3 linked regions of the Homo sapiens genome follow. The protein of the gene in region 1 purifies or fractionates together with the protein of each later gene. This does not show direct contact. Each region holds a gene or a part of one and is shown on either strand. Other genes may lie near its edges.

Evidence for each region.
Region 2: the proteins of COPS4 (region 1) and CUL4A purify together in Homo sapiens (affinity purification with mass spectrometry; 7 studies listed by BioGRID and IntAct, with this or other methods). This does not show direct contact.
Region 3: the proteins of COPS4 (region 1) and DDB2 purify together in Homo sapiens (affinity purification with mass spectrometry; 9 studies listed by BioGRID and IntAct, with this or other methods). This does not show direct contact.

Annotation. Positions count from the first base shown.
Region 1 is NC_000004.12:83,044,452-83,052,627, reverse strand, and holds part of COPS4 (COP9 signalosome complex subunit 4), read right to left. Parts: intron 7,003-8,176; coding exon 6,923-7,002; intron 3,463-6,922; coding exon 3,311-3,462; intron 2,748-3,310; coding exon 2,644-2,747; intron 1-2,643. UniProt on the Homo sapiens protein: Component of the COP9 signalosome complex (CSN), a complex involved in various cellular and developmental processes.
Region 2 is NC_000013.11:113,261,025-113,267,608, reverse strand, and holds the end of CUL4A (cullin-4A), read right to left. Parts: intron 4,690-6,584; exon of another isoform or gene 4,610-4,689; intron 4,123-4,609; coding exon 4,027-4,122; 3' UTR 501-4,026; downstream 1-500. UniProt on the Homo sapiens protein: Core component of multiple cullin-RING-based E3 ubiquitin-protein ligase complexes which mediate the ubiquitination of target proteins. As a scaffold protein may contribute to catalysis through positioning of the substrate and the ubiquitin-conjugating enzyme.
Region 3 is NC_000011.10:47,231,386-47,238,973, reverse strand, and holds part of DDB2 (DNA damage-binding protein 2), read right to left. Parts: intron 6,161-7,588; coding exon 6,015-6,160; intron 4,402-6,014; coding exon 4,302-4,401; intron 4,218-4,301; coding exon 4,040-4,217; intron 3,705-4,039; coding exon 3,562-3,704; intron 1,138-3,561; coding exon 973-1,137; intron 837-972; coding exon 791-836; intron 175-790; coding exon 125-174; 3' UTR 1-124.

The DNA.
Region 1 (8,176 bases):
AAACCAAAAAGCCAACAAAAAAAGAATACTGGAGCAATGCAATGAAAGAGTACTTACACAAATTCCACCACTATATCACTAATATGTCTACAGACATTTTTCTTGTCACAACTAGGAACAGCAGTACTATTGGCATCCAGCAATCAGAGGAGTGGTGCTGCTAAAACCTCCTGCAATACACAGGACAGCCCCCACAACAAAGTATCTAGCCGAAAACGCCAGTAGTGCTGAGGCTGAGAATCTCTGACACAGATGAACTACCCATATTCCTATCTAAAGCCTATCCCTCTGCTAGATTCCTTCCTCTCTTGTCTACTCCTGCAAGAATCCTCTCCCCAATTCCCCTATATCAAATTTTTGCTTTCTACTGGATCATAAAAGAAAAACTAATCCCTTAGCCTAACGTCTGCTGTCATCGTCTACCCTGTTTTTCTTCCTACCTTTTTTGAAAACTCCCCCACAGGGTAGCCCATACTCACTATCTCCACATCTTCTCTTCCCATTCTCTCTTAAACCATGCAATCAGGCTTTCACTATCATTTCACAAAACTCAGCTGGTTAAGGTTATCAGTGGCCTCTACACTACTAATGCCAACAGTTAACCTGTACTCCTTATCTTACTTGACCTATCAATGCCATAGCTCACCACCTGGCCCTTGATACATTTTCCTCATTTGGCTTCTAGGACACCACCCTCCACATTATTCTGATTTCCTTCTTACCTCAATGGATAATCCTTCTCATTTGCTACATCTTCCCCTGGTCCCAACCTCTTAACGTTGAAGTGCTCCAGGCCTCACTATACTCAGTCCTTTTGCCTATCTACATTCTCTCCTTTGGGCATCTCATCCAATCTAATGGCTTTAAATTTCATCTATATGTCAATAACTCCCAAATATGTATATCTAGTCCAGATATCTCTTCTAATCTCCAGACTAATACATTCAACTCCTCACTACATATTTCTACTTGGATATCATATGTCCAAAATGAAACTCTTGATATTCCCTACAAACCTATTCTTCCCCACTCCAACTTTCCAATTGCTCAGGCCAAAAATCAGGGCTTATCTTGACTCTTTTTTGCACACTCTACATACAAGCCATCAGGAAATCCTTACTCTACCTTAAAAAACATATCTAGAATTCAATACTTCTCACAACATCCACCTTATCTGTGGTACTGTATAAGCCTTTTTTAAAAAAGACAGGGTCTTGCTTTGTGCCCTAGGTGGGAGTACAGCAGTGCAATCATGGCCCACTGCAGCCTCAAATTACTGGGTTCACACAATCCTCTCGCCTCAGCTTCCCAACTACCTGGGAGTATAGATGCATATCCATACTATATCACCAGGCCCAGCTAATTTAAAACAAAAAAAAATTTTTTTGTAGGGATGGGGGGTGTTCTCAATATGTTGTCCAAGTTGGTCTCAAACTCCTGGGCTCAAGCGATCCTCCCGCCTCAGCCTCCCAAGTAGCTAGGACTACAGGCATGTGCCATCATGCCCAGCATTTTTTTTTTTTTTTTTTGGTGGAGATGGGGTCTAGCTATGCTGCCCAAGTGGTTCTCGAACTCCTGGGCTCAAGCAATCTTCTCCCACCTCAGCCTCCCAAAGTGCTTGGACCATAGGTGTGAGCCACTGTACCTGGTCTCATAAGCCTCTTAACCAATATCCCTACTTCTATCACTGCTTGCCTACAGTTTATTCTCAACCCAGTAGTGAGAGTAATTATTTAAAACAGAAGTCAGATCATTTCACTGTTTGTTCACAATTCTCCAATGGCTCCCCCTCATTTCACTTAGTGAAAAGCCAAATTCCTTACAATGGCTTATAAAACTCCACATAACCTGGTCCCCAGTACTCTCTACTCTCATCCCTGATCTCTTGCCCCTTTGCTCACTCTACTCTATCCACACTGGCCTCCTTGCTCTTATTAAGAAAACACTTCAAGCTTGCTCCCATCTTAGGGCCTTTGCACTAGCCATCTCCTCTAAGAGTATCTAGTGATGATATTCGGCCAGGTGCAGTGGCTCACAGACCTGTAATCCCAGCACTTAGAGAGGCTGAAGTAGGTGGATCACTTGAGGTCAGGAGTTTGAGACCAACCTGGCTAACATGGTGAAACCTAGTAAACATGGTGAAAATCTAGTAAAAATACAAAAATAGCCAGGTGTGGTGGTGCATGCCTGTAGTCCCAGCTACTTGGGAGGCTGAGGCAGGAGAATTGCTTGAACCCAGGAGGCAGAGGTTGCAGTGAGCCGAGATCATGCCACTGCACTCCAGCCTGGGCAACAGAGCAAAACTCCGTCACAAAAAACAACAACAACAACAACAACAACAAGAGTATCTGGTGATATTCTTTCCTCAGATCACTCTTAGCTACTCCCTTATCTCCTTCAAGTCTTTGATAAAGTGACATCAGGGCCACCCTACTACCCCAATCACCCTATTTAAATATACATACAACCTGTCCCCGCTTTGCCCCATTACTTTTCTCCACAGCACTTATCACCTTCTAACATACTACACAATTTTGTATTTATTTGTTTATCTGTTTCCTGTACTAGAATGTAAGAAAAAATATAAGTGAGCAATTATATACATCCTATATATAGTCATCCAATATCCACTATTTACTATACTTTTGTCCTGTTTCCAAAGGAATTCCCACCAACACTTGGGCTGCATTTCTCCAATCTTCTTCTTTCTCATATATAGATGCAAGATGCTGTCTTATGGAAGCAACCTGGAATAATAGGTATACATGTCAAATTATTTCAACTGACATTAGTAACTAATTAAAATAAATAGGAAAGTTATTCTAAAGTGGCAATTCAACATACTAAGCTGCCACGTAAACAGTAAACGTTTATCAAGACCACCCAAGTTTTCCTACGAATTTTGCATTTACAGAATATCAAACTAGTGAACGGAAGCAACACATTTCTGCAATGTGGATTATGGTACAATACTGTAGTTTAAACATTAAATTTAGCTTGTATGTTCCTGCATACACGATGCTGGAGTTTTCCTGTGTTTTCAGCTGAAATACCAATTTTACTGATTTTAAAAAATTGTCTAGAGAGCAATATTTGATTCACAAAATCAAATTTTACTTTATAAGCAAATGTCAGTTGGAGTTGTAACAACCTAATATTTACTTGATTTTGCATCATAAAATGTCGTTTGGCACACTGTTTTGTCAAAAATGAAATTGGATGATTATCTCCTTTAAGAATTTACTAATATCAGATTCTCAAAATAACTGCTGCTATCTCAAGTTAAAAAACCACTTCTCTAGATTTTTACCTGCTCCTCAAATGAAATGACTCTAGGCTGGATCTTTTCCAAGGTGAAGTGATAGATTTCTTTGGCTGTGCTATCAGGCAAGTTAGGAAGATGTGTGCAAAAATCAGTCAGCAACTGCCGCGAGATCACGAGACTGACATTCTCATTTACCACTTGTTTAAAAAAAAAAAAAAGATAAGAAAACATGAGCTGATAAATTGTCATTAAACAATCAACCTTTACTTAAAATTAATACTAACAACAATCTATATTAGTACAGCCTTCAATGCATTATTCAAGGATTTCCATACCCCTATCATTTTATATTACATCATCAGTTTTCCTTATGCTGAAATACTTGATTACACAATGACCACACAAAAACAGTAAAAATAGGCCAGTGCGATGGCTCACGCCTGTAATCTCAGCACTTTGGGAGGCCGAGGCAGGCAGATCACGACGTCAGGAGTTCGAGACCAGCCTGACCAACGTGGTGAAACGCTGTCTCTACTAAAAATACAAAAAAAAAATTAGTCAGGCATGGTGGTGGGCACCTGTAGTCCCAGCTACTCAGGAGGCTAAGGCAAGAGAATCGCTTGAACCTGGGAGGCTGGGGTTGCAGTGAGCCGAGATCACAGCACCGTACTCCAGCCTGGGCAACAGAGCTAGACTCTGTCTCAAAATTAATTAATTCATTAATTAATTAAAAAATCTTAAAAAACAGTAAAAATAACACAACTTTTCTAAGAAACAGAAATAATTGAAAAAAGTTTTAAAAGTTGATAATTTTATCTCATTTTTCTACAAAGTGAAGGCACAAAAACACCTATATTTTTATTTATGTGCTTATATCCTACCTTGTTCCAAAAAGGAGTTAAAAAAGAAAACAGTAAAATAATTTTCATGAAATTTAAATAAAGCAAGTGCTGCCAGTACAGTTATTGCCACTTATACTTTCCCAATAAAAACAATAAATAAGAACTTCAGTGAGCACTAGATGTATTGACATTATTTATAAACATTTACGAGGTATTATTTTATGTGATTAAGCTCTGGAGCCACACTGCTTCTACCACTACTGATTATATGACTTCAGACAAGAAACTTAACTTCTCTATGCTTCTCTGTGCTTCTGTTTCCTCATGTGTAACATCTATTTCATAAGGTTGTTATGAAGCTTAAATGCAATAATATACACAAAGCACTTTAAACAATACCTGGTACATAGCACTCAACAAATGTTACTATTATAACTATCATTTTAAATGCATCATTCTTGTAAACTATTGCTTAGATAAATTATTCAAGTCTTTTTTATTATTATTATTTTTTTTTTTTGAGACTGAGTCTCGCTCTGTCGCCCAGGCTGGAGTGCAGTGGCACCATCTTGGCTCACTGCAAGCTCCACCTCCCGGGTTCATGCCATTCTCCTGCCTCAGCCTCCTGAGTAGCTGGGACTACAGGCACCCGCCACCACGCCCAGCTGATTTTTTTGTATTTTTAGTAGAGATAGGGTTTCACCGTGTTAGCCAAAATGGTCTTGATCTCCTGACCTCGTGATCCGCCCATCTCGGTCTCCCAAAGTGCTGGGACTACAGGCGTAAGCCATGGCCCCGGCCAATTATTCAAGTCTTAAAGCAGCAGTTAATATGAAAATAAGTGATTCAAAAACTGTTCAGTTGATGTAAATGATTTTAACAGTAGACTGCTTTTCCTGGTGGTTTACTGGATTCAAAGCTTATACAAAGATCAAAAAATATATATATATATGTTTTTTAATTGTTTTTTTGAGACAATCTTACTGCTGCCCAGGCTGGAGCGCAGTGATGCAACCTCAGCTCACTTCAGTCTCGACCACCGGGGCTCAAGCAGTCTTCCCACCTCAGCGTCCCAATAGCTGGGACTACAGGCATGCATCACCACGCCAGGCTAATTTTCGTATTTTTTTGTAGAGACGAGATTTCTCCACATTGCCCAGGCTGGTTTTGAACTCCTGAGCTCAAGTGATCCCTTGGCTGGGTGCCATGACTCATACCTGTAATCGCAAAGTGTTGGGATTACAGGCATGAGCCACCGTGCCCAGCCAAGATCAAAGTTATAAAAAGCATTATTCTTCTGCTACTACAGTGCAAAGTTCTTAATAAACCACTCCTAACAGTTTTTTGGAAACCATTGCTAGTTTATCTCACACCGGAGGCCATGATTTTTTAAGGCAGTAACCTTTTAAGTTTTAAGGCAGTAACTTTTTAAGGCAGTATTTTTTTAAGGCAGTTGTAATTAATTAATCACATATTAATTGGAATTCATTATTGGGTAATACAGGATGTGACTGAGAAAACAGTTTCATTACAAGTGTCATTAGGCATTTAAGTTACCATACAAGCTGGTATTACTCAGGGAAATATAAGCAAGTAAGAGCAGTGTATCAGAAAACCTAGTTTCTGATCTGGGCTCTGCCAGCTAAATGTCCTTGAAAAAAAGTTACTCAATCCTGAGACTTGTCTTACAATATATTATACAGGGATACCTGTACCTATACGTTCTAGTCACAGGTTATTAAAAGGAGCCTATGTGACAGGTAATGTGTGTGAGAACACACTGTAAAGCACTATCAGATATCATTAATGATGTGAACTCACTATAAAATTCCATGTGAACTCACTATAAAATTCCTTAGGATAATGGCCTACAGACATATGCATGTTGCTGCACAGGACATGATTGTATTCTTTTTAATGTGTGCGTAGTATTTTATGGTGTATATGTGGCACATATTTCTATCCAATTTATTGATTCACACATAAGTTAAGTCCATGCCTTCCTTATTGTGAATAGCAATATGGCGAATATACAAGTGCATGTGGGGTTTCTTTTTGTGGAATTTTTAATTTTCTTTTGGATATATACTCAGTAATGGAATTGCTGGTTGAATGGTACTTCTGCTTTAAATTCTTTGAATAATCTCCAAACTGCTTTTCACAGTGGCTGAACTAATTTACATTCTCACCAACAGTGTATAAGCATTTCATTTTCTCTGAAGTCTAACCAGAATTTGTTATTTTTTTACTTTTTAATAGTAGCCATTCTGACTAATATTAGATGGCATCCCACATTGATTTGCATTTCTCTGATGATTAGTGATGTTGAACATTAAGAAAACAACCCCATTAAAACATTGACAAGGGACATAAGCAGACACTTCTCAAAGTACAGTACTGTACTACCCTGTAGTACAGTAATGTACTATAGAGTACATTTTAGGTACATTAGATGTACTACAGAGTACATTTTAAAGAGGAAAAGGAGGCACAGAGAGGTTAAATAATTGACCCAAGATCACACAGCTCATAAAATAGCATACCAGGATTTGAATCCAAACTATTCTCTTTACTATTATGCTATATTGTCCCTTATCAGCTATTATAACAATAAACATACAAAACTTTAATTAGGATTGTAATTCTGAAGATAATTCACTGAAAATTAATCAAGTTGTAAACAGTTTAAATTCTAAAATCAATCAATCTCAATGCATATTTAATATTGATAATTTGATACAAAACAAGGCTTGAGAGAACTTTAAAGTCCTAGCTCAGTAATACAAGGCAAGCATGAAATTTCCATTTCACTTACTTGCTTCCACAAAAGCTTTCAAAGCTTCTAGTTGTTCTGCTCCAGATAACTGAATGGCTTTTTCCAGGATCTGACGATACCTACAACAATACCAAATGAAAATAATGTTCTGAGGGTACTATATTTTCTAATGCAAACTTTGATGTGTATTTATTCATTTCTACATACCTTGGTTTCTTTCATAGTACTATAGTTTGTGGTTTTCTTTATAGTATACCACAGATTTTTTTTTAAGTTTCTAGTCTATCACAAGAGATATTAAATCTATAATTATATAAGGTACCACTTCATCTAGTTTTCAGTATAGTATACCAGAATTTTTTAAGTTTTCAAGCTCATCACAAGAAAGAATGAATCTATAATTCTGTTACTGAATCTAAGGTGTCACTTTTTCTTGAAGGTTTTATTTTTGAATTTAAACTACAAAGTCAATTTCCTTTCAAATGCCTTAAAAGATAAGCTATATTTCCTTCAACTGTGCAATACATAGACACACAAAAACATTATTTGAGGTGACCTGAATCTTTTCCTCTTACAGACGTAATGTATGTAGGGTCACCAGCAATAGGATAATGTTGACCAGGCAACGAAACCAAACATTAAAGACTGAATGTCTTAGTCTGTACAAAATAAACTTCGCCAAGCCAAATGCACTGATAGAATACCATTTATGCTGTCAGACAGTACCTATTTATTCTTTATTTGCATTCAGATCTAATAACTATTCTACCTAATATCTGTGACCACACAAGCTCCACGAGGACAGGAATTCTTGTGTTTTGTTCTCTGCTATGTAGACAATTATCTCAATTCTTGGCACATCATAAGCACTCAAATATTCAACGGTATTAGTAATGTTTTATTTCTTAACGAGTGGTTAGTATATGAGTGTTATACTATTCTTTTGTTGTTGTTGTTGTTGTTGTTTTTGAAGACGGAGTCTCGCTCTGTCACCCAGGCTGGAGTGCAGTGGCGCAATCTTGGCTCACTGCAACCTCCACCTCCCAGGTTCAAGCGATTCTCCTGCCTCAGCCTCCTGAGTAGCTGGGATTACAGGCATGCGCCACCACGCCTGGCTAATTTTTGTATTTTTAGTAAAGATGGGGTTTCACCATGTGGTCAGGCTGGTCTCAAACTCCCGACCTCATGATCCGCCCACCTCAGCCTCCCAAAGTGCTGGGATTACAGGCGTTAGCCACCGTGCCCGGCCTATACTAATCTTTATCTCTTTTGTCTTAATCATTTTTTTTTTTT
Region 2 (6,584 bases), on another chromosome or scaffold:
CTGTTAACATTAAACTCATCAGTACTTTGTCGTACATTTTATCCAAGATGGTTCCAGTTTTTTTTTTTTTTTGAGATGGAGTTTTGCTCTGTCATCCAGGCTGGAGAGCAGTGGCGTGATCTCAGCTCACTGTAAGCTCCGCCTCCCGGGTTCACGCCATTCTCCTGCCTCAGCCTCCCCAGCAACTGGGACTACAGACGCCTGCCGCCACGTTGGGCTTTTTTTTTTGTATTTTCAGTACAGACGGGGTTTCACTGTGTTAGCCAGGATGGTCTCGATCTCCTGACCTCGTGATCCGCCCGCCTCAGACTCCCAAAGTGCTGGGATTACAGGGATGAGCCATGGTGCCCGGCAAGGGTTCCAGTTTTTTTAACCTTGTTTTCCCCCATGTTGACTTTAAAAGATGTCATTTAATGTCAATCCTTTTTTAAAAAAATCGATGTGAATTCACTAGATCACTTAGTGGAAAAACACAAATAAAGGGGCAACGGGTCCAAAAATCTTAGAAAGGAGGACTATATTTTTCTTTTTCTGAGTTCTATTGTACAGCATGGTGAATACAGTCAAAAATTGAGTATTGTACATTTCAAAATTGCTAAGAGTAAATTTCAGATGTTCTCACTACAAAAATGTTAAGTATTTGAGGTGATGGATGTAACTAGCTTGACTAGTCCACAATGTATGCATAATTTATAAGATCACTTTATACTCTATAAATTTATACAATAATAGTCAATTTACAAAAAAAGTATCTTATGATTATGGTTTCATATATATGTATTTTTTTACACGTAAATACTTGACCACTTGGAACTTCCCTTAGTATAAAAAGGAGTCTAATCCAACTTTTCTCTTTTCAAGGTGGCCCAAACTTCTGAGCATGGGTAGTTGTTGCAAAGTTCCAGTTCCTGATCACACACGGCCCCTTTGTGCCACGCCGAGTTCCTGTGTATTTGGCTTATTTGTGGACTTTCTTGTTCCAGGAATCTTTTTAAAGGGCCAGCATCATGCTGTTTCAATTACAATGTTCTAAAAACAGCAGAATTTAAAACAATTTGACTAGTCTGGCATATTTGCTTTTCTGTTTTAACTTTAGAATCCGCTTGTGTTTTAAAGGAAGGTTTTACATCTTAAGATACTGTATAGCAAAATGTGAGAATCAACAGAACTTTCACTTATTCAGGGCCTGTGTTCCTTAGTAATGTTATAATACCTTTCACATAGGTGTTTCCCTATTTGTTACTAGGTATTTTATCTTTTTTGGGGGTTGCTATTGAAAAAATGACTTCTGGTCAGGTGCAGTGTCTCATGCCTGTAATCCCAGCATTTGGGGAGGCTGAGGTAGGAGGTTCGCTTGAGGCCAGGAGTACAAGAACAGCCTTGGCAACATAGCAAGACACTGCCTCTATAAAAAATACAATAAAAATTATCTGGGCGTGGTGATGTACACCTGTAGGCCCAGCTACTCAGGTGGCTGAGAAGAGAGGATCGCTTGAGCCCAGAAGGTAGAGGCTGCCGTGAAACATGATCATGCCACTGCACTCCAGTCCAGGTGACAGTTAAGACCCTGTCTCTAAATAAAAATAAAAAATGACCCTCCATTATAGCCTATATTTATAGGAAAGCTACTGATGTTTTTGTTAATTTTGTGTCTGGTTAACTTGGTGAATTCTTTCTTCAGTCACAGATTTTCATTTGCTCCTTAGATGACCTGGGTATGCAACCATCTAACCTGCAAGTAATTTCACCTTCTCCTTTCCACTTTTACAGCATTTCTGTCTAAGTGCTGTTTCTTTTTCAATGATTTCTTCTATACTATTTGTTTTACCACACTGACCTTTAACAATAAAACATTAAATATTGCTAAATAAGAGAATAGATATAAATAGATTTTCCTTTCTTTTATAAAACAGAAACAGGCAGGCCGGGCATGGTGGCTCACGCCTGTAATCCCAGCACTTTGGGAGGCCAAGGCGGGCAGATCACCTGAGGTTAGGAGTTCAAGACCAGTCTGGCCAACATAGTGAAACCCCGTCTCTACAAAAATACAAATATTAGCTGGGCATGATGGCGGGTGCCTGTAATCCCAGCTACTTGGGAGACTGAGGTGGGAGAACTGCTTGAACCCAGGAGGCGGAGGGTGCAGTGAGCTGAGATTGCACCACTGCACTCCAGCTTGGGCAACAGAGCAAGACTCCACCTCAATTAAAAATAAATAAACTAAAATGGAAACAGGATCTCCCTATGGTGCTCAGGATGGTCTGGAACTCAGGCTCAAACGATCCTCCCACCTTGCCCTCCCATAGCTGGGACTACAGGCGTGAGCCACTGTGCTCAAATGAAACAAAGGCACAGCACAACGAATCGTCCAAGTAAAAAAGACCCACTTGTCACTACCTGGCCCCACTGGTATTTTGTGGTAGAGGTGGCCAGGAAAGAATAATCACTTGAGAGGGGACAGGTGCTCCCTGCTCTGACTTCTGTCTAGTGCACTAGTAGTCAAAGCTGCTAAAGAGTTATGAAGAATGTGTCATTTGCATATCACAAAGTTTTATTAATGTAATTTTAAGGCCAATTAAACTAATTTTATTCAAAGTAAGTCTACATTAAATTACAATATTAACAATCTCTAGACACAACGAACTTATAAGAAAAAAAAAATAGAAATCTGTTTGGTCTTTCTTAGACCACATATCATGGAACTCATAAATGAAAATTTTCAAAGATAGAAATGACAATTAAAGAGTGAGGATTTTAATATGGAAACCCACAAGGTGTCATATTTCAAACCCGCATGTTTCAAAAAGAGACTCTTAATAATTTAGCACAAAATCAAATTATATAAACTTGGTATATTCCAGAAAATATTGCTTTAAACACTTATGCCATGATCAAAATTCCTTTGGTAGCTTTTAATCAAAATGAAACATGCTATTATGTAAAATATAAAGTACTTTTAAATGTTATCTCAAAAGTATCTTTGTCATAGTTACCCTTCTAACATCACTACTGAACTTTCCTTTCACTGTTCAACCTCATGTATATATACACAACACAAAACCAGGTACCAACAAAATCCTTTTAATCTTTCCACAAAATAACCTCTGCTTCACAACATCAAGACTTTAAGTCTCCATAAACTTTTTACAGTTTACAGCAGAGAACAAGGATCGTCCCTGCGCATGACTGTAAAAACCAAACCAAACTTTATTATTGCAATCACACAAATACTGCAATTAAAAAAAATCAAAGAGCAGTTACCCCAATGCAAAAAAACAGGGACTGCCAGACTCAATCTTAGAATGGAAACACAAACACACTAGCCCCAAACCCTAAAACAGAGATTCACAAGGAACTCAGCTGACGAACAGACGCAGCAGGGCGGACACCATGGCCTTGGCACCTCAGGGAGCTCACTTAGAAACCTGACTTACGAAAAATCAGCCATCAAAGTTTACAACTTTTGGAAATACATGAAACAGAGAGGGGCCAGTGGCTAGGGTGCGTCATCCATTCGCCAGCTTTGAACCCTGGCTCTTTCTAATGTTCACCCATGAAGGGCCCTTGTTTTCACTCTAAATGCTGATCATCTGAGCGAGCTGTCTTCAGGGATACCTAAGGAATCTTCAGAGCTAAAAAATGCAGCATCTAGGGTCTTCTTCATTGTGCACTCATGATCACACACGAGAACAAACCAAACTTGCAGCTTTTTGACACAAGAACAAGACCTTTTAAAGGAACTTCTCTTTAGTAACATCTTCTTGTCCAATCTCAAAGTTATTTTGCACAGAGTAACAGAAACAATTTAAATGCCTAAAAGAACTAGAGGAAAAACTGGAGGGAAAAAGATACATCTGCAGGTTGAAGTCTTGAGCCTTGTGAAAGATGACCCAGGAGCCACCTCCCTTCCTTCGCCTTCCAATGTCCACAGCTGGATCAATCAGAGTCCCAGAAATGGCACAGGTGTGCTTCCTGCTCTGAGGGTACATTCTAGTGTTTCATGAAGGGGAACCGTCTGCAGATGCGTCAGGCCACGTAGTGGTACTGATTCGGATTGTCTTTGTCTCTCTCCATATAGTCTCTGTCTATCAGAGATTCAATTCTCTTTTTCAAATCTCCAGGCTAAAAAAGAAGAATAAAACCCCCCTAATTACAATGGCATTAAATTTACAAACATTTACATACAAGGGGTATATGCATGAAGTATGTAACTATACTTATAGAAATATATATACAAATAGATATTTATATGAAAATCATTTATAATTATACACATATTTATGAAATGAACAAAACTTTCTATTTTAAAGACAAAGTTAACGTTATCTCTTGATAAAAAAAGCGTCCATGTGAGTTTATGGTCAGAGTGTGGTTTCCTGAGGGAAACGTGAAACTTGTGAAATGTACATACATCATCTGCCATCAGTAAGGGCACGTATAAGCGAGGCAGATCCGACATCTGCCATCAGCAAGGGCACGTATAAGTGAGGCAGACCCGACATCTGCCATCAGCAAGGGCACGTATAAGCGAGGCAGACCCGACATCTGCCATCAGCAAGGGCACGTATAAGCGAGGCAGACCCGACATCTGCCATCAGCAAGGGCACGTATAAGCGAGGCAGACCCGACATCTGCCATCAGCAAGGGCACGTATAAGCGAGGCAGATCCGACATCTGCCATCAGCAAGGGCACGTATAAGCGAGGCAGATCCGACATCTGCCATCAGCAAGGGCACGTATAAGCGAGGCAGATCCGACATCTGCCATCAGCAAGGGCACGTATAAGCGAGGCAGATCCGACATCTGCCATCAGCAAGGGCACGTATAAGTGAGGCAGACCCGATCACGTGACACATTTTTATTTGAAAGGAAAATCTCAACATGTCTTACTGGGGCAACTTTTATCCTTTGAAAGGATGCTTCTGCCTAAGTAGTGTATTTTATTTTGTTTATTTATTTTGAGATGGGGTCTCATTTTGTCGCCCAGGCTGGAGTGCAGTGGTGCGATCTCAGCTCACTGCAGCCTCCACCTCCTGGACTCAAGCAATCTTCGTGCTTCAGCCTCCCCAGTAGCTGGGATCACAGGCTGCACACCACCATGCCTGGCTAATTTTATTTTTTGTAGAGAAGGGGTCTCACTATGTTGCCCAGGCTGGTCTCAAATTCCTGGGCTCAATCAATCCGCCTGCCTCAGCTCCCAAAGTGCTGGGATCGCTGGCGTGAGGCAGTGCGCCTGGCCTGTAGTTTTATTCTCGTGTATTTACATAGTTATTGCATGCCATGTCCACGTAAGTGAAACTACAATCCCCAGTGTTCCTGCACTAAGAGTAGGTGACTGAGGAGACGAATCCACAGCCACAGCCTGTCTCTGCCCAGAGGGAACAGCCACTCCAGCTCTGCTGTATTAGGAAGAAAATCTGTGTGAGCACTTACGTGCAAGGCTCTCCCTATACAAGGGAGACCCTCTATTTTCCAAACAAACTTCACCTTCTATTCAGTGATAAGCCACACATTTTACAAGATGTGGCTGAGGCTGGGCGCGGTGGCTCACGCCTGTAATCCCAGCACTTTGGGAGGTTGAGGCAGGCGGATCACGAGGTCAGGAGTTTGAGACCAGCCTGACCACACGGTAAAACCCTGTCTCTACTAAAAATACAAAAATTAGCTGGGTGTGGTGGCGCGTGCCTGTAAGCCCAGCTACTCAGGAGGCTGAGGCAGGAGAACTGCTTGAACCCGAGAGGCAGAGGTTACAGTGAGCCGAGATCGTGCCACTGCACTCCATCCTGGGGGACAGCAAGACTCCATCTCAAAGAAAAAAAAAACCCAACTACCCGAGAGCAGAGCGGGCGCCCTGGTCTGCCACACTCTACCCCTGAGAGCAGAGTGGGCGCCCTGGTCTGCCACTCTCTACCCGAGAGCAGAGCAGGTGCCCTGGTCTGCCACACTCCACTCTTGCTCACCTCTGCTTCGCGCTGGGCCTGATTGTTTGCAGTGGCAACAGGAGACTTGCTCCAGCTGGTGGGAGGAAGGGGCAGTGAACCTGATGGTGCTTTTGGAGCTTCCCAGGGCCCTGAGGACGGCACCTCACCTCTGCAGGGAAGGGGGCAAATGTGGGCTGATGGACAGTGGCACTTCCACCAGACTCTTAAGTGTTCGACTATTTAGTGCATCTCAACTTTATTCCCTTGATGGAATGGGAGGCTCAAACTGCACAACATGGAATCTGGGGACTTTCCCTCCAAAGCACGTGTGGCCGGTCCTGTCCCTGAGAGGCCAGGCGTCATCAGAGTTCAGTATTTCCTGGGTTGATAAATACATGTAAAAAACGTTTCATAATACTTTCCCGGCTTATCCTGCATCCCACACGTGGCAGGACAGTAAATCTCAGTTCTGAAAACAACGCGGGTTGACAGGCCTGGGCTGACTTTCATAAGCAACAGCAACAGTAGACTATTACCGTGGTGGAAAACGCGGTGTAGGCTGTAAACGCTGAGTAAGTTAGTTATTGTTATCATTTCCTTAAAATCTTGTGATGTAACCTTGACCGCTACTACTATGAGAAAAGTGTTCAGCTTTCCATGTCC
Region 3 (7,588 bases), on another chromosome or scaffold:
CCCTGCTCCAACCCTAACCTTGGATACTTTTGGCCCTTTAACAAATCGCCACCTCTGCTTGCAGGACTTGATCCCATGTGTGGGCTCCAAGGCCTTGTCTGGCCCACACCTTCTTTAGTGTCTCTCACTTCCGTGTCCTGGCTTCCTCCTGGCTCCAGATGAGAATGTGGTAACCTAGGAAGAGTGAGACCAGTCTGACTTACACTTTCTGTTACCAATCTCTCAGAGCCTGGGGCTGGCCCGCAAACCTACAATTTGGTAAAGAAATACTAGGAAGGCCGGGCGCGGTGGCTCAAGTCTGTAATCCCAGCACTTTGGGAGGCTGAGGTGGGCGGATCACGAGGTCAGGAGACCGAGACCATCCTGGCTAACACGGTGAAACCCTGTCTCTACTAAAAATACAAAAAATTAGCTGGGCGTGGTAGCGGGCACCTGTAGTCCTAGCTACTCGAGAGGTTGAGGCAGGAGAATGGCGTGAACCCAGGAGGCGGAGCTTGCATTGAGCCAAGATCACGCCACTGCACTCCAGCCCGGGGGGACAGAGCGAGACTCCGTCTCAAAAAAAAAAAAGAAATACTAGGAAACTGGACAGTAGCCAGGCATTGCATGACCAAGACAAAGCCAGAGGAATGGAGGGCCTTGGCTATAGAGACCACTGTCTCCCAGCCATCTTCTTCGTGGGCCACTGCCCTGGGGTGAATGTGGCAGGGCGGGGCTGAGGCTGGCCCGCACTGAACCTTGGGAAGTAGGATCGGACTTGGCAAGTCAGAGACATTCTCCTCCTACTCACCCATTGCAGAGGCCAGCGTGTCCCCCATGGGATTGAATTCATTAAGCTGCAGAGACAAGAGTGTCAACATGAGGAGAGGGTGAAGGTATTAGCAGAGACACCTGATTTCTGGTCACTTTTGGTCAATAAGGTAGGTTGAATCCCTGCTTCCTCCCATCATTATTTGAGGACCCAAGCCTCACCGAACTGATGCCAGAAGATTCTGGGTCATAGAGCTGACACATCATCTTCCCTGAGTTTCCATCGAACACGTCGATCGTCCTCAATTCATAAGGGGTACAACTTTTGAAATTAGGATCTGGGTATCGGCCCACAACAATGAGGTTGTAGCGAGGATGCCAGGCTGCCTAGGAGATGGAGAGGCCGGCCATGAGGGTAAACACAGAACATGATCAAGGGGGACATCAAAAACAAATATGAACAAAGAGGAACATCAAAAGTATTCTTTGGGCTGAGTGCAGTGGCTCACACCTGTAATCTCAACACTTTGGGAGGCTGAGGCAGGCGGATCACGAGGTCAGGAGATCGAGACCATCCTGGCTAACATGGTGAAACCCCGTCCCTACTAAAAATACCAAAAAAAAAATTAGCTGGGCGTGGTGGTACATGCCTGTAGTCCCAGCTACTTGGGAGGCTGAGGCAGGGGAATCACTTGAACCCGGGAGGCGGAGGTTGCAGTGAGTGAAGATCATGTCACTGCACTCCAGCCTAGGTGACAGAGCAAGACTCTCAAAAAAAAAAAAAAAAAAGTAGTATTTGCCAGTAACAAGCCAACCTAATAATGGAGATAAGTCTTACAGAAAACTACAAGAATGGTTTTAGGTTGTGTGTGCCTCTGCCATTGCACATTTTTAATCCCTAGCTGGCCTCCCTGGCCCTTAGGGCACCTTCAGGCCTTCTCCCTCATTTGCATTTCCTAAGATCATACCAACTGGTAAACGTTTTAACATCAGCCTGACCCAGATACTGACCTAAGAGGCCTACAACAAAGCAGAAAAAGCCTCTGGTGACCAAACCCTAACAGGACTTGAGTTCTGGAGGAGCCCCACTGTCATCCTGTCTCCATCAACACGAATAACTAAGAGCTGAGTGTAAAATTGCTAATGGCTAAAAAAGAGAAGGAAACCCACATTCCCCAGATCACCCCACTAAAAACAAATCTGGCAGTTATTAAAATGGCAGAATTGGATGGGATTTTCCTAAACTTCTCAAGGAAGTTTTGAAGGAAGAAAGACATGGTTAGCAGGAAGGAAGAAATAGTACATGCGAAGGCTTAGAAATAAGTCACAAATCACACACAGGAAGCTGTAATGACTTACGACACCTGGCTAGATACAAACTGGGACATGCAGACAGATGGATTATCGGGAACACTGATGGATTAACAGGAACACCAACTGGGGAAGGATTCTTGACATTATTTATTAAGAGCTTGGATGTGATTGAGGTACGTGGGGGCCACTCAATATTCAATCATCATTTATTGAATACTTACCAGTACTTACCAGGTGCTGGGCATGGGGCCAAGTGCTTTAAGTATACTGACTCATCTTCACAACAACCCTATCAGTTAGAGACTAGTATTCCCTTTTTGCAGATGAGGAAACAGATCCAAAATATAAGTAATTTGCCCAAGGATTCTAACCCGGGGGGTCTGGCTGCTGGAAACTGGCGCTCCCCACCACTATTCTGAACTGACCAGAGAAGTATAGGCATAAAACCTGAAGATCTGAAGAGGATCTGTAGTTTTGGAAAAGAATGCAGAACTAGCAGAGCTCAGTCTGCATGGGGGCTTAGGCAAAAAGGCATCAAAGGACTTGAAAGCTATTAGTGTTGGGGACTAATGATAGAGAAGCTATTAACAAGAGCCTGAGAAAAGGTGGGAAAATAAAAGACTTATTTTTATTATTAGAAGCACTGAAACCTGCAAGACAAACTAAGAAGGCAAAGTTGCCAGGCGCAGTGGCTCATGCCTGTAATCCTAGCACTTTGGGAGGCCAAGGTTGGGGGATGGCTTCAACCTAGGAGTTCAAGACCAGCTTGGGCAACATGGCAAAACCCCATCTCTATAAAAAATAAAAAAATTAGCTGGGTATGGTGGCGCATACCTGTAGTCCAATCTACTTCCGAGGCTAAGGCGGAAGGATTGCTTGAACCCAGGAGGTTGAGGCTGCAGTGAGCTATGTTTGTGCCACTGCACTCCAGCCTGGGTGACAGAGCAAGACCGTTTCAAGAAAAAAAAAAAAAAAAAAAAAAAGGATCAGCCTGGGTAACACAAGAATACCCTGTCTCTACAAAAAAAAAAAAAGTGAGGCAGGAGGATCGCTTGAGCCTGGGAGATCAAGGCTGTAATGAACCATGCTTGCCCCACTGTACTCCCACCTGGGTGACAGAGCGAGACCCTGCCTTAAAAAAAATAATAAAAAAATAAAAAATGAAGGTTTGTGGGTCAACTGTACACAGGTAACTGAAGCTGAGAAGACAGAACAGAGGGTCAGGATCTTAGAAAATTCTCACAGTGAGATCAGAGCTGGGCTGAAAAAACTCAGAAAAATATCTTATCAGCGAGACAGAAAACTCAACCATATGGGATGGCAGAAGTGGGATAAAAGGAAGAGAGAGAGCCAATGGGTAAGAGATGCTCTGTGCTCGGGCCAGGAGCGATCTGGGGTGGCAGGCTTACCACATCAGCCCTTCCCCACTGTGGGCAGACCTGCTCCGGCCTCATGATCACAGCCTCCTTCTGCGAGCTCCTTCCCACCGCCACTCACCTTGATGGGTGTGAGGTGCTGGAAGTGACGGTGAGGGTGCGGGATCAGGCCCAGGGGGCAGTCCCACTGGGAAGCAGAGTAAACTCGGATCTCGCTCTTCTGGTCCGTGGTCAGGAGCCGGGCTCCATCGGGACTGAAACAAGCTGGCAAAGTGAAAAGCCCCTGAGCTGAAGGAACCACAAGCCCTCTGTGGTCCTGGCCTTGCAGGCCTTCTCCTGCAGGGGTACTCTCCCTCCCACTCCTCTCTAGACAGGAGCGGAAAGGAAGAGGTGAATCTGGGCTGTGAACAACAACAAAAAAATTCTGGAAACTCAGCAGCTGATGGGGACAGCCACAGCCACAAAGGTTCCCAGACATCAGCTTGGCAGACGCTATCAGGGGTAAAGGTTTGACGTAGTGGCTTCCACACTGAGGGAAAACCCCAGCAGTGGTCAGACAGGCAGGGTCTGCAGGAGAGATGAGGTCTGGGATATCACACCTGCGTTGACAGGATGCCTGTGCGGCAGCGAGTAGAGGAAGCTGGCTTTCCCTCTAACCTGGCGCAGGTCCCAAATTTTCACTGTTTGATCTACGGAGGCTGTGGCCAGGAACCAATCACAGCATGGGTTCAGGGCCACATGCGTCACTTTCTTTTTGTGCATTCTGAGATTCCAAAGCTGCAGAGAAGAGCTCGGTTCAGGTGGGGACACAGAACCGAGGTGGGGGTGAGGGAGGGAAAGGCAGGACCTCGGAGAACGCACCTCTTTGCCGTCCATGTTCAGCAGGATCACGTTCCCCACGTTGTCTCCTGTGACCACCATTCGGCTACTAGCAGACACATCCAGGCTACAAAACCAGATGCTGGAGGGAGAGACTGTGTTGTAAGATTCTTGGGGACAGAGATAGTCCTATTTACTCACTGTTGCCGCTCCGGTGACTAACCCACAGCGGGCATTCAATAAATATTTGTTGAATGAATGAATAACTGTCTTGCCGTGGATTCCTAGTGAGGAACATTCAGACTGCTCTACCGTCCAGACAGAGGGGATGGGATAATGGGGCTCAGAAATCTGTCTGGTTATGGCTGGGCCCAGGATCCCCAGCTCCTAAAAGTCCCTGAAGCAGACAAAGCTTATACCATAAAGCAAGCCCTGAGGCACGCCTGCCCCCCACACCCCGGGTTCTGAGCAAGCCTCCTTTACTGCTCTCTCCTTTCACTCTTCACCCTTTAGGCCAAAGGAGACACAAGCCAAAGAGGGATTGCCTGGCCCTGTTCCTCAGAGCTGGCTAGAAAAGCACTTCTGCCCCCTTCTGAACACTGGGGGAAAAAACACAACCAGGAGCTCTTCTGGTCCCTCAAACCACTGGACTGGGAGGCTGACTAGGAGGGTGCTTCAGGGATCCTGCTATTCAGCCAGAAGAGCTCAGCTCACAGTTTTTCTCTCAAACTCTCAAATCCATGCTACACTGCCTTTTGCCATCCCCTATGAATATCTTCAAGCAGGAAGATTTCTTGCGGAAGAGTAGCCTGGAGCCTTGTCTATCCAATTGCCTGCTGATTTGCGTGCGCATGCACTCCTCATCCCTGCGGGACAGCCCAGGATCCAATCCAATGCTAGTTACACCCCAGCACCCTCACTTAATTCCTCAGGGAGCAGTCAGAGTCACGGCTCTAGCTGGAAATCAAAGTGACGAGTATTCTGTAATTTTTTTTTTTTTTTTTTGAGATAGATTTTCGCTCTTGTTGCCCAGGATGGAGTGCAATGGCGCCATCTCGGCTCACTGCAACCTCTGCCTCCTGGGTTCAAGCGATTCTCTTGCTTCAGCCTCCCAAGTAGCTGGGAATTACAGGGGCCTACCACCACGCCCAGCTAATTTTTTGTATTGTTAGTAGAGATGGGGGTTTCACCATGTTGGCCAGGCTGGTCTCGAACTCCTGACCTCAGGTGATCCACCCACCTTGGCCTCCCAAAGTGCTGGGATTTCAAGCATGAGCCACTGCACCCGGCCGCATTCTGTAATTTCTCCAGCCACTTTCTCTTGGGAAGTCCAGAGCACTTTATGGAAAAGATTCCATCCATATAAGCTTCCACCCAGGAACAGGTCAGGTCATTACACCACAGTGAGTGCAGGGCATTCAGTCTCAAGTTCTGAGCTGTTGCTCCATTCTCTAGGTGGCTTTCTGGGTCCACGCCATGCTGGCTTATCTAGTGAGGGTCAAGGTCCAGTCTAATACAGGTATGACTTACAGAAGAGCTGAGGCTCCAGAACACCTTCCCAAAGCAGTAACCCACCTGGACCAAAGTGAGGGCAGCCAAGGAGCAGTTTGAGAAAGAGAAAGAAGGGCGGAAAGTGGCTGACATCTTTCCTTTCTTCCCTGGGCCAGGTTGGGTTAAGGAAATGGGATCTGGATGCTCTTGCCGGAACTACACCTAAGCTTAGAAGCCCTTTCCCCTGCTAGTTAAACTACTCACTTGATGGTGTCTGAGCTGGCAAAAACTCGTAGAATGTTGCCTTTAAAGTCTTGCAGCCTAGTTGTTCCCTCCATTGAGGAGGCGTAAAACTGGTTGGTATTGAGAGGGTTAAACTTCAGCCCAGTGATGCTCCCTCCAGCTCCAATCTAACACGAGGAAGGAAAAAGCCAGTGAGTGATGATGGGCCTGGCCGTGAGGAACCAGGCCTGGGCACACATGCTGCGCCGTCACAGAAGCACCCCTCGAGCAGCGCTTGGGGCCAGGTCAGCTTAGACACTAGGACGCTCTCTACAGGGCCTTCACTTCTTTTTCTTTTCCTTTGAAATAGGGTCTTTCTCTGTCACTTAGGCTGAAGTGCAGTGGCACAAACACGGCTCACTGCAGCCTCAATCTCCTGGGCTCAAGCGATCCTCCCACCTCAGCCTCCCAAGTGCGTGCCACCATGCCCAGCTAATTTTTCTATTTTTTTTTTTTAAGATGGGGTTTTGTCACGTTGCCCAAGCTGGTCTTGAACTCCTAAGCTCAAGCGATCCCCCTGCCACGGCTTCCCAAAGTGCTAAGATTACAGGCATGAGCCGCTTTGTCTGGCCCCTTCATTTCTTTCTTTTTTTTATTTTTATTTTTATTTTTATGTTTTTGAGATGGAGTCCTGCTCTGTCACGACCTCGGCTCACTGCAACCTCTGCCTTCCAGGTTCAAGCGATTCTCCTGCCTCAGCCTCCCAAGCAGCTGGGATTACAGGTGCCCACCACCACGCATGGCTAAATTGTATATTTTTAGTAGAGACAGGGTTTCACCATGTTGGCCAGGCTGGTCTGGAACTCCTGCCCTCAGGTAATCCGCCACCCTTGGCCTCCCAAAGTGCTGGGATTACAGGCGTGAGCCACCGTGCCCCGCCTCCCTTCATTTCTTAAGGCTTTATTTTTACTTTTTTTTTTAATTAACATATAGCAAATTTGGGATATAAAGTTCTCTGAATTTTAACATATGTATAGACTTAAATAACCACCACCCAAATCAGGATGCAGAACATTTGCAACAGCCCAAAAACTCCATCGTGGTATCCCATTGTAATCACACCCTCCCCTCGCCCCCAGCCCCTGGCTGATCTGTTCTCCATCACTATTGTTTTGCCCTCATAGAATGTCCTATAGACCGAGCACAGTAATCCCAACACCTGGGGAGACTGAGGCGGGGGGATTGCTTGAGGCCAGGAGTTCAAGACCAGCCTAAGCAATATAGGGAGACCCCATCTCTACACACACAAAAAAAATTTAGACATGGTGGTAGGTGCATGTGGTTCTAGCTACTCAGAAGGCTGAGGTGGGAAGATGACGGAAGCCTGGAGGTCGAGGCTGCAGTGAGTTGCGATCGAATCACTGCACTCTAGCGTGGGTGACAGAGCAAGACCCTGTCTCTAAAAATAAAATAAAATAAAATTAAAAATAGAATGTCATGTAAATGAATTAGGCAGTATGCAACCTTTTGAGACTGTCTTGTTTCATTTCACTCATCATGCCTCTGAGATTCATCTGAGTTTGCTGTATCAAGAGCTCATCTCATTTTATTGCTGA